2 linked regions of the Homo sapiens genome follow. The protein of the gene in region 2 interacts with the protein of the main gene of each other region in a pairwise test. Each region holds a gene or a part of one and is shown on either strand. Other genes may lie near its edges.

Region 1 (3,232 bases), on a different chromosome or scaffold from region 2:
TGACATAATGAATGTGCTGTTCTCTGTGCTCTGAAAGTGTATGGGGAGGCTAAACAATTATCTTTGAGGTTTGTTAGTACCTATGAATTATTCATCAATCTTAGAGTTTCTAAAATTATTCTCACAGAATTATCATCTAGTGGGCAAAGAGGTCATCTTGTCTGATCACACCCAAACAGAATTATCCTTAATACTCATCACTTAAACAAAAACAATTGGAATAAAAAGACAGAACACTACACTGTTTATGTATTGTGTCCAATATTTACACACCATAGAGAGATATAGATTTTACAGAATCTAAATATACAAAATACCTAATGGTTTAATTTGATTAAATAACAGTAGTGAATATGCACACGAAGTGAGTTCCATGTGTTACCAAATTGCAATTGACTATGCTTTACATGTTTTAAAAATCATCACTTTTGATGAAACTTGCTCTTAGATTCAGACTAGATGTCTGTATAGTCATCATTTTTAACACTGGCAGCATAGTAAAGTCAACTGGGGAACTCTTAAAAGAAATGTATGTCTAGGGCCACACCACCGAAGACACCGATTTCCTGGCAATTGGTTTGGGAGAAGGCCCAGACATCTGTATTTTTAAAGTTCTGCGGGGTAGTCTAATGTCAGCCAAGGTTGAAAATCACTGCTTCACGTAGTATAGCTAGATAAGTGAGATAGAGAGGTCTCCATGTGCAGCTTCTATTTTGAAAGTCAGTCATGATTCCTCATTTTAGCAAGTTCTCTTTTTCTTTACCTCCTCTTTCCATTCAGAATTGAGTTCAAATATTTCTTTACAGCCATTTGTTTTCTAAGGCGGGTATAGTTGTCAGTGAAGACTGCATCTGAGTGACGTTTGACTGGTACAGGGTCTTCTGAGATGTTACTGCTAAGGAACATGAGGAAAAGGAAATCAAAGAGTTTTCACAAGAAATGATAAATACACACATGTTCCAGGTTTCTTGGAGCCACATAAAAAGCAATTCCCACCCAACTAATTTTCTATCATAAAAAGACTAAAAGAAAAATACAACTAAACCTAAGGATGAAGGAAAGCAAGGAATCATCTGCCATATTTTGGCATGGCCTGGGACTGTTTTATGACACATTCTGTACAGCTGAGCAAATAATTCATCCAAAAATAAAAATTTGGGAATAGCTGAAGTTGTGCTCTGCCATTGGGAGAAATTTTTTTTTTTTTTAAAAAAAACATAATTACTTCTTTAGAAGCTATGCTACCCTGAGCAACGTCATCTAAATATTTGACTGTTGGCCATTTGGAATTCTCCATTTAATTTGAGCAGGAAGTAAAAAGAATATTCTGTTTGACCTTAAAATTTACCTCAGTCTGTACTATCTCTTTTTGATTGTTTTACTGAGTCTTGTTCAATTTGATTGCAGATTGCTAAATGATTGCTACTTGAGAAAAATGTGTGTCTGGAGTCAATGAATATGATATTATGAAAAAGTCTTAGTCCATGGGCTTGATAGATGTTATTGAAGAATACAAGTTATTTCATTTAACTAAATTAAACATTATCAACGAGTTTTCAATTTCAAACAAAGTAAATAACTTGTTAAGAGTGAAAATACAATATTCAGATTGAATAATGATAACATATTTTATAAAAATAATAAATTCTCTTTACCTAACACGTTTTCCCATAAGAGACTCAAGGTACTTTTTGGCAGAAAGTTGACCCAAGAGTTTACTGAAGTCACTGGTGAAAACTCCATCAGCATGCCTGGCATTTCTAAAACAAGGAAGAAAAAAATAGCTATTATTTTGTAAATGGCTTTCTAGAATATTATTATGGCTTATTAAATAACAAAAAAATTATGGGCTTATTATGAAAGCTTCTCATTAAAACTAAAGTTCAAAAGGAGATTTCTTAACACCCTAACAAAAGAGATCTTCTAGTCACTTATATCAAGATATACCCTATATTTCTAGCCCAAGACACTGAAAAATTAAAGAAACAGGCATTTCTAGGAGCACATTTCAATATTCCTCCATGGTTGAATCTTTATAACTATTTCTTTCTAAGAAATATTGGTGTAAAAATATGATCTATTTAAATTAGCTGCTATTTGTACATGGTGCTTTGTGTCTGCCCCACTGAATAAAGACATTCACAATGGGAAAATATTCTGATTTTGGAAAGTTCATAAACCCCAGTACACCTTTTTTTTTCTTTTTCCAAAATATTTGGAAACAAAATCTCTTAAGATAGAGAAGGCATTAAGGCCTATCATCCCACCTTTTCTCTTTCAAATGAAGCACCTTTTATACTTTGTCTGTACCAAGTACTATAGAGCTACTTGGTCTGTACTTGAAATGATGCTCTAGACAAACAGCTCTATGAATGAACAGCTCTATCAGGTATCTTTTCTTTATATAGAGACAAAACTCCTTGGCAACTCTTCCATCATTGGAATGCTAAATGCTGTACTTTTATCAGAATTGGTACAATCTGTGATGTTGGAATTATGTGCAACAGAATGGAAGTGAATGGTGTGTTCATCCTGGCTTGTTACAACCTTTCAGTATGAAAATTATGTACAGCTGTAAGATCTGCAGTAAATCAGGATGAATGAAGCCATGACACATAGAAACCTCTAGTGTTTTGCTATCGGAATAGCTTCATGGTGAGATAAAATAAGCACGTTTATAGTTCTTAAACACATTTTCTAAAATAAAACTCATTGGATAGTTTTATAAAAATAAACTCACCTGGATACATCATAATAGGGTGTGTCATTTTCAGCTAATGCATTTTGCAACATGTCAATGTCTTCTTTTAATGAAACTTGATCAGGTTCATTTGCTCCCTCAAAGGGTATTCTGTCACCCAACCTGATGGGGAAAGTTACACGAGAATAATACATTCTTTTTTCAGAAGACAGTGTGTATGGTTCCGCAACCATTTAAAATAAGATACTTAGACTCTTGGGAAGTATTACCCAGTCATAATATGAGAATAGCATAATTTGACTTAATGGCTCATATAGTTAATGAGAGTATAAATAGGAAATTCCTATTATCCTATAAAGTAGATGCCATATGACTTTTATAAGCTGAATATACAAAACACAAGAGCTACTTAATTCAATCTTATCAGAGCATTAAGCAAACTATACTTCTTTGGTGTAATTTACTATGCCAAGAATATCTTCACTTTGCAAAGTCAAATTTCGTATGTAGAAATATTTTATGCAAAATAGA
Region 2 (5,643 bases):
TCAGTCCTGGAGGCCGGAAGTCCATGATCAAGGTTCTGTCGGGGCTCGTTCCTTGTGAGGACGTGAGGGCAATCTGGTGTCCCTGCCGTGTGGCCGCGTCACCCATCTCTGCCCTCGGTGTCCCTGCCCTGTGGCCGCGTCACCCATCTCTGCCCTCGGAGTCCCTGCCGTGTGGCCGCGTCACCCATCTCTGCCCTCGGAGTCCCTGCCGTGTGGCCGTGTCACCCACCTCTGCCCTCGGTGTCCCTGCCGTGTGGCCGCGTCACCCACCTCTGCCCTCGGTGTCCCTGCCGTGTGGCCGCGTCACCCACCTCTGCCCTCGGTGTCCCCGCCGTGTGGCCGCGTCACCCACCTCTGCCCTCGGTGTCCCCGCCGTGTGGCCGCGTCACCCATCTCTGCCCTCGGTGTCCCTGCCGTGTGGCCGCGTCACCCATCTCTGCCCTCGGTGTCCCTGCCCTGTGGCCGCGTCACCCATCTCTGCCCTCGGAGTCCCTGCCGTGTGGCCGTGTCACCCACCTCTGCCCTCGGTGTCCCTGCCGTGTGGCCGCGTCACCCACCTCTGCCCTCGGTGTCCCTGCCCTGTGGCCGCGTCACCCACCTCTGCCCTCGGTGTCCCTGCCGTGTGGCCGCGTCACCCATCTCTGCCCTCGGTGTCCCTGCCGTGTGGCCGCGTCACCCACCTCTGCCCTCGGAGTCCCTGCCGTGTGGCCGCGTCACCCACCTCTGCCCTCGGTGTCCCTGCCGTGTGGCCGCGTCACCCACCTCTGCCCTCGGTGTCCCCGCCGTGTGGCCGCGTCACCCATCTCTGCCCTCGGTGTCCCTGCCCTGTGGCCGCGTCACCCATCTCTGCCCTCGGTGTCCCTGCCGTGTGGCCGCGTCACCCATCTCTGCCCTCGGTGTCCCTGCCGTGTGGCCGCGTCACCCACCTCTGCCCTCGGAGTCCCTGCCGTGTGGCCGCGTCACCCACCTCTGCCCTCGGTGTCCCTGCCGTGTGGCCGCGTCACCCACCTCTGCCCTCGGTGTCCCTGCCGTGTGGCCGCGTCACCCATCTCTGCCCTCGGTGTCCCTGCCGTGTGGCCGCGTCACCCACCTCTGCCCTCGGAGTCCCTGCCGTGTGGCTGCGTCACCCACCTCTGCCCTCGGTGTCCCTGCCGTGTGGCCGCGTCACCCACCTCTGCCCTCGGTGTCCCTGCCCTGTGGCCGCGTCACCCATTTCTGCCCTCGGTGTCCCTGCCCTGTGGCCGCGTCACCCACCTCTGCCCTCGGTGTCCCTGCCCTGTGGCCGCGTCACCCATCTCTGCCCTCGGTGTCCCTGCCGTGTGGCCGCGTCACCCATTTCTGCCTTCACATCCACACAGTGTTCTCCCTGTGCATGCGTCTGCATCCAAATGTCCCCTTTTTATAAGGACATTGGTTATTGCTCTAGGGACCCGCCGTACACTGGTATGATGTCATCTTACCAAATTCTGTCCGCCAAGATCTTATTTCCAGGTGAGGTCGCATTCCAAGGTCCTGGCAGTTAGGACTTCAGTGTATGGATTTGGGGGACACAGTTCAGCACACGACAGTATTCAGCCCCTGGAGCCGCCTGTCAGCGTGGCTGCGCGCAGAGGGTCCCTGGGGCCCAGCTGGGGAGTGGGACCTGGCGGCAGAGACCCCTTGCACTGTGCTGGCTCAGAAGGAGGAGCCGTGGCCTCCTGGGTGCTGGGTCAGAGTTTCCTTGTAGGTGTTTGTGGCTTTAGTCACTTCTTGGAGAGCAGATCTGGGCACAGAGCAGAGAAGAATAAGAAATTATCCAGAGGCAGCTGTCACTGTAGAAGATTCCTTCAGGCCTCGCCCTTCCTCGTCCATCCCGAGGCTGGCGGCCTCTTGGCCAGGCCCTGTCTGACCCAGCCTGAATCCGAGCGTCTGATCTCAAACCTGTGCTTCTCCTCACGGTGGTTCCCCAGCTCCTGAGGCCTCAGGCCTGCCCCTTGCCTCATGCGTCTTGGCACACAGAGTGCAACTAAGAATAAGGTCCACTATGCACGGGCTGGGCCCGGCCCCGGAGGAAGGCCGGTGACACACAGCCCCGCCACCCTGTATGTCAGCCAGTGAGGGACAGAGATGGGGAAGACCCAGCTGCTCAGAGACACCAGAGGCCCTGGACAGGGAGTGGATTCCAGGGAAGGCGGCTGCCCAGCCCAGCCCGGAAGGAGCAGGTGGAGAAGGGAGGCCCAGCCAAGGGAACCTCATCGCAAGAACAGAGGATGGGGGTCCCATCCCACGGCCAGGGCCTCCCCAAGGGCTGCCCCTCCATGCGCCAGCACCACAGCAACCCCTCTCCATGCCTGCTTCTGGCCTCAGAGCAGGTTCTCCAAATGCTCCCAGTGAAACTGCACAGCCGGGCAGCGTTTCTGGAATAGCCTCAGCATGTGTTGATCTGGACACGGAGGGTGCACCAGCACCCGTCCACGTACCTGCCTGTGTGGGGGTGTTCACTCAGCGTTGTGCACGCCTGGTCTCGTACCCCTCCCCCCCCCCCCGATGGGGAGGTGCTGTCGCCATCCATGGGGGACAGAAGAGGAAACTGAGGCTCAGCAGAGTTAAGTCGCTTCCCCTAGGTCACACTGCCAAAAACAGCCAACCGAGGTCTATGCCACGAGACTCACCACGAGGAATCATGATTTTTTTTTTTTGACATGGAGTCTCACTCTGTTGCCAGGCTGGAGTGCAGTGGTGTGATCTCAGCTCACTGCAACCTCCAACTCCCTGGTTCAAGTGATTCTCCTGCCTCAGCCTCCCGAGTAGCTGGGATTACAGGCACGTGCCACCATGCCAGCTAATTTTTGTATTTTTAGTAGAGATGGGGTTTCACCGTGTTTGGCCAGGATGGTCTCTGTCTCCTGACCTCGTGATCTGCCTGCCTCGGCCTCCCAAAGTGCTGGGATTACAGGCGTGAGCCACCACGCCTGGCAGAATCGTGATATTAACAACAGATATCGCAGGGCGCCAAGCGCTGGGCTGACAGCTTCCGGGTTATTTTTTCCCCGACCCCTGACAGCAGCCACAATGGAGCTCCCCATTTTACAGACATGGAGGCGGAGGCTCAGGCCGAACAACCCGTCCGAGCTCACAGGCTTTGCAGGCCACGATCCGGGAACCGCCTGGCCTCTCCCTCACAACCCGGCTGGCTTAAAACAACCAAGATTGATTTCCCTCGCAGTTCTGGAGGCCAGAAGTCTGAGATGAAGGTGCAGGCTGGGCCACGTTCCCTCTGAAGGCCCCAAGGGAGGCTCCGTCCTGCCTCTTCCAGCTGCTGGGGGCCAGCGAGCCTCACCTCTCTTCGTGTGGCCACATGGCCTCAGCCTCTGCCTCCGTCTTCACGCGGCCGTCTCCGTGCGGCCATGTTCAATCCCTGCATTAGGGCCACCACAGCGACCTCATCTCCACTTGTTTCCATCTGCAAAGACACAGACAAGGTCCCGTGCTCAGGTCCCAGGTGGACGTGACTAGCCCAGAACTTGGCTGCTCCAGCGGCGGGGGCGGGGGCGGCTGCTTCTCCACGCAGCTTGTTACATCTGAATGTTTAGAGTCACCATCGCCAGCCTTCGGGGGAAATGGAGGCACAGTGAGGCCAAGCCTTCCTGAGCTGGCGCCTCAAGGCAGCCGGCCAGCCTGCCCCGGGGGAAGCTCACGTCGGGGCTTCCTGCTCAGAGCCGTGAAGGTCACTGTGGCCGAGGCCCCTCCAAGTTGGCCCAGGCACCCAGGAAACCTGTGTGAAAGGTCTTGTACTAAAAAAAGACCTGTCCATAGACTACAGCTCCAGATTCCAGAACAGCCTCTCCTGATGTCACCATCTGGCACCCTTTAGAGCTTTGGCAGGAAACTGCAGGGACCACAGACATGAGCAGAAGCAGCTGTCAAGTCCTGGGAATGAGGAACAAGACAGGGTATCCGAGGGGGGACCAGGCGGATGTCCGAGGGGGAACCAGGAGGGTTTCTGAGAGGGAACCAGGAGGGTGTCCGAGGGGGCATCCAGGAGGGTATCCGGGGGGGAACCAGGCGGGTGTCCGAGGGGGGCACAGGCGGGTGTCCGAGGGGGGCACAGGCGGGTGTCCGAGGGGGGAACCAGGCGGGTGTCCGAGGGGGGAACTAGGCGGGTGTCCGAGGGGGGAACCAGGCGGGTGTCCGGTGGGGGAACCAGGCTGGTGTCCGCTGGGGGAACCAGGAGGGTGTCCGGTGGGGGAACCAGGCTGGTGTCCGCTGGGGGAACCAGGAGGGTGTCCGCTGGGGGAACCAGGAGGGTGTCAGGTGGGGGAACCAGGCGGGTGTCCGAGGGGGGCACAGGAGGGTGTCCGAGGGGGAACTAGAGGGGGGTCTGAGGTGGAATGAGGTAGGTAGGCCTCCCAGGGGGAACAAGACGGGTCCCCAAGAAGTCCCTGGGGGGAGTCCTCTGCAAGTCCTGTGAAACAGTGATACCAGGGCAGGCACACCTGGCCCCGTTGGGTACCTAAGAAATGCTTGCTGACATGCCACAAAAGAGGTAAATTGAGGAAAGGGGCAGTGGCTCTGGCTGAGGACAAGGTCTCTCCCTCTCAGCACTGTGGACATTGGGGCTGGATCGTTCTCTGGAGTGGAGCTGTCCTGGGCACTGCAGGGTGCTGGGCAGCATCCCTGGCCCCCACCCACCTCATGCCAGAAGCAGGGGCGGAGGGGACCTCCGTGGCGCCTCAGTACCACCCTGGGAGTGCTCAGGAGGCCCTGGGAGCACGCGGGTTCTCTAGGGCAGGCCCTGCTTGCCTGCTGGCCTCACACTTTCTGGCTGTGTGCATAGCCGGATTGGTGAGCTCTGGGCCTCAGGTCATCATCTGTGAAATGGGCGTATTAAGGCCTTTCTACCTGGGCTGTCCTGGAGCTGAGATCAGCCAGCACCCTTAAAGTGAGGCCCAGCTAGTTAGGGGCAGGCCTGGGGTGCCTGGAGTGGGGAGTGTGAGGGGGCCTGATGGGGGTTTTTCCTGCACCCCCAGGTATCACCTCTTCTGGGCTCAAGATGGACAACAAGAAGCGCCTGGCCTACGCCATCATCCAGTTCCTGCATGACCAGCTCCGGCACGGGGGCCTCTCGTCCGATGCTCAGGAGAGCTTGGAAGGTAGGTGGGTGCCTGCCACTTCCCCCTCTCCCCGGGCAGCGGCCAGCACAGTCGCCTCGTGTAGACACCTGGTGTGTAGATGCCTGGTCCCCCGCCTGGCTTTTTGGGGGTGGAAGCTAAGCCCAGAGAGGGCAGGGGTCTGCCCAGGGCCACACAGCCCCCGGCCGTGGGAGCCAGGGCCGAGCTGAGCCCTCCCGCCTGCCACTGCGTGGCGCCACCACTGCTTGATGCCTTCAGGCTGAGCTGCCTTCCAGTGGCTTTTTTCCATCTCCCCATCTTCCACCAAGGTGTGTTCTGGAATGTTCTCACCACCCAGTGTGTGTGTGTCACCATCGGTCACGGGGAAAAAGCTCTCCTAGTGCTGGCCCCGCCCCAGAGTCCCAGACTCGTTGGCATCCTGCATGGCCTGTCCGCTCCCCAGGTGCCTTGGTCTCCTGGCTGGTCTTGCTTGCGCTTCTGCGACACCTGGATCCGGGGCTCGGAGGGAAAGGAGGGCTCGGGGAGGCACCCT

What was found. Proteins that work in one complex are often made in the same cells at the same time.
Region 1: the proteins of SGTA (region 2) and VIP interact in binary tests that used the Homo sapiens proteins (3 or more experiments, as listed by UniProt).

Annotation. Positions count from the first base shown.
Region 1 is NC_000006.12:152,753,797-152,757,028, reverse strand, and holds part of VIP (VIP peptides isoform 1 preproprotein), read right to left. Parts: intron 2,864-3,232; coding exon 2,741-2,863; intron 2,154-2,740; exon of another isoform or gene 1,761-2,153; coding exon 1,656-1,760; exon of another isoform or gene 896-1,655; coding exon 764-895; exon of another isoform or gene 1-763. UniProt on the Homo sapiens protein: PHM-27 and PHV-42 are two bioactive forms from proteolysis of the same precursor protein, that cause vasodilation. PHM-27 is a potent agonist of the calcitonin receptor CALCR, with similar efficacy as calcitonin.
Region 2 is NC_000019.10:2,768,458-2,774,100, reverse strand, and holds part of SGTA (small glutamine-rich tetratricopeptide repeat-containing protein alpha), read left to right. Parts: intron 1-5,009; 5' UTR 5,010-5,032; coding exon 5,033-5,132; intron 5,133-5,643. UniProt on the Homo sapiens protein: Co-chaperone that binds misfolded and hydrophobic patches-containing client proteins in the cytosol. Mediates their targeting to the endoplasmic reticulum but also regulates their sorting to the proteasome when targeting fails.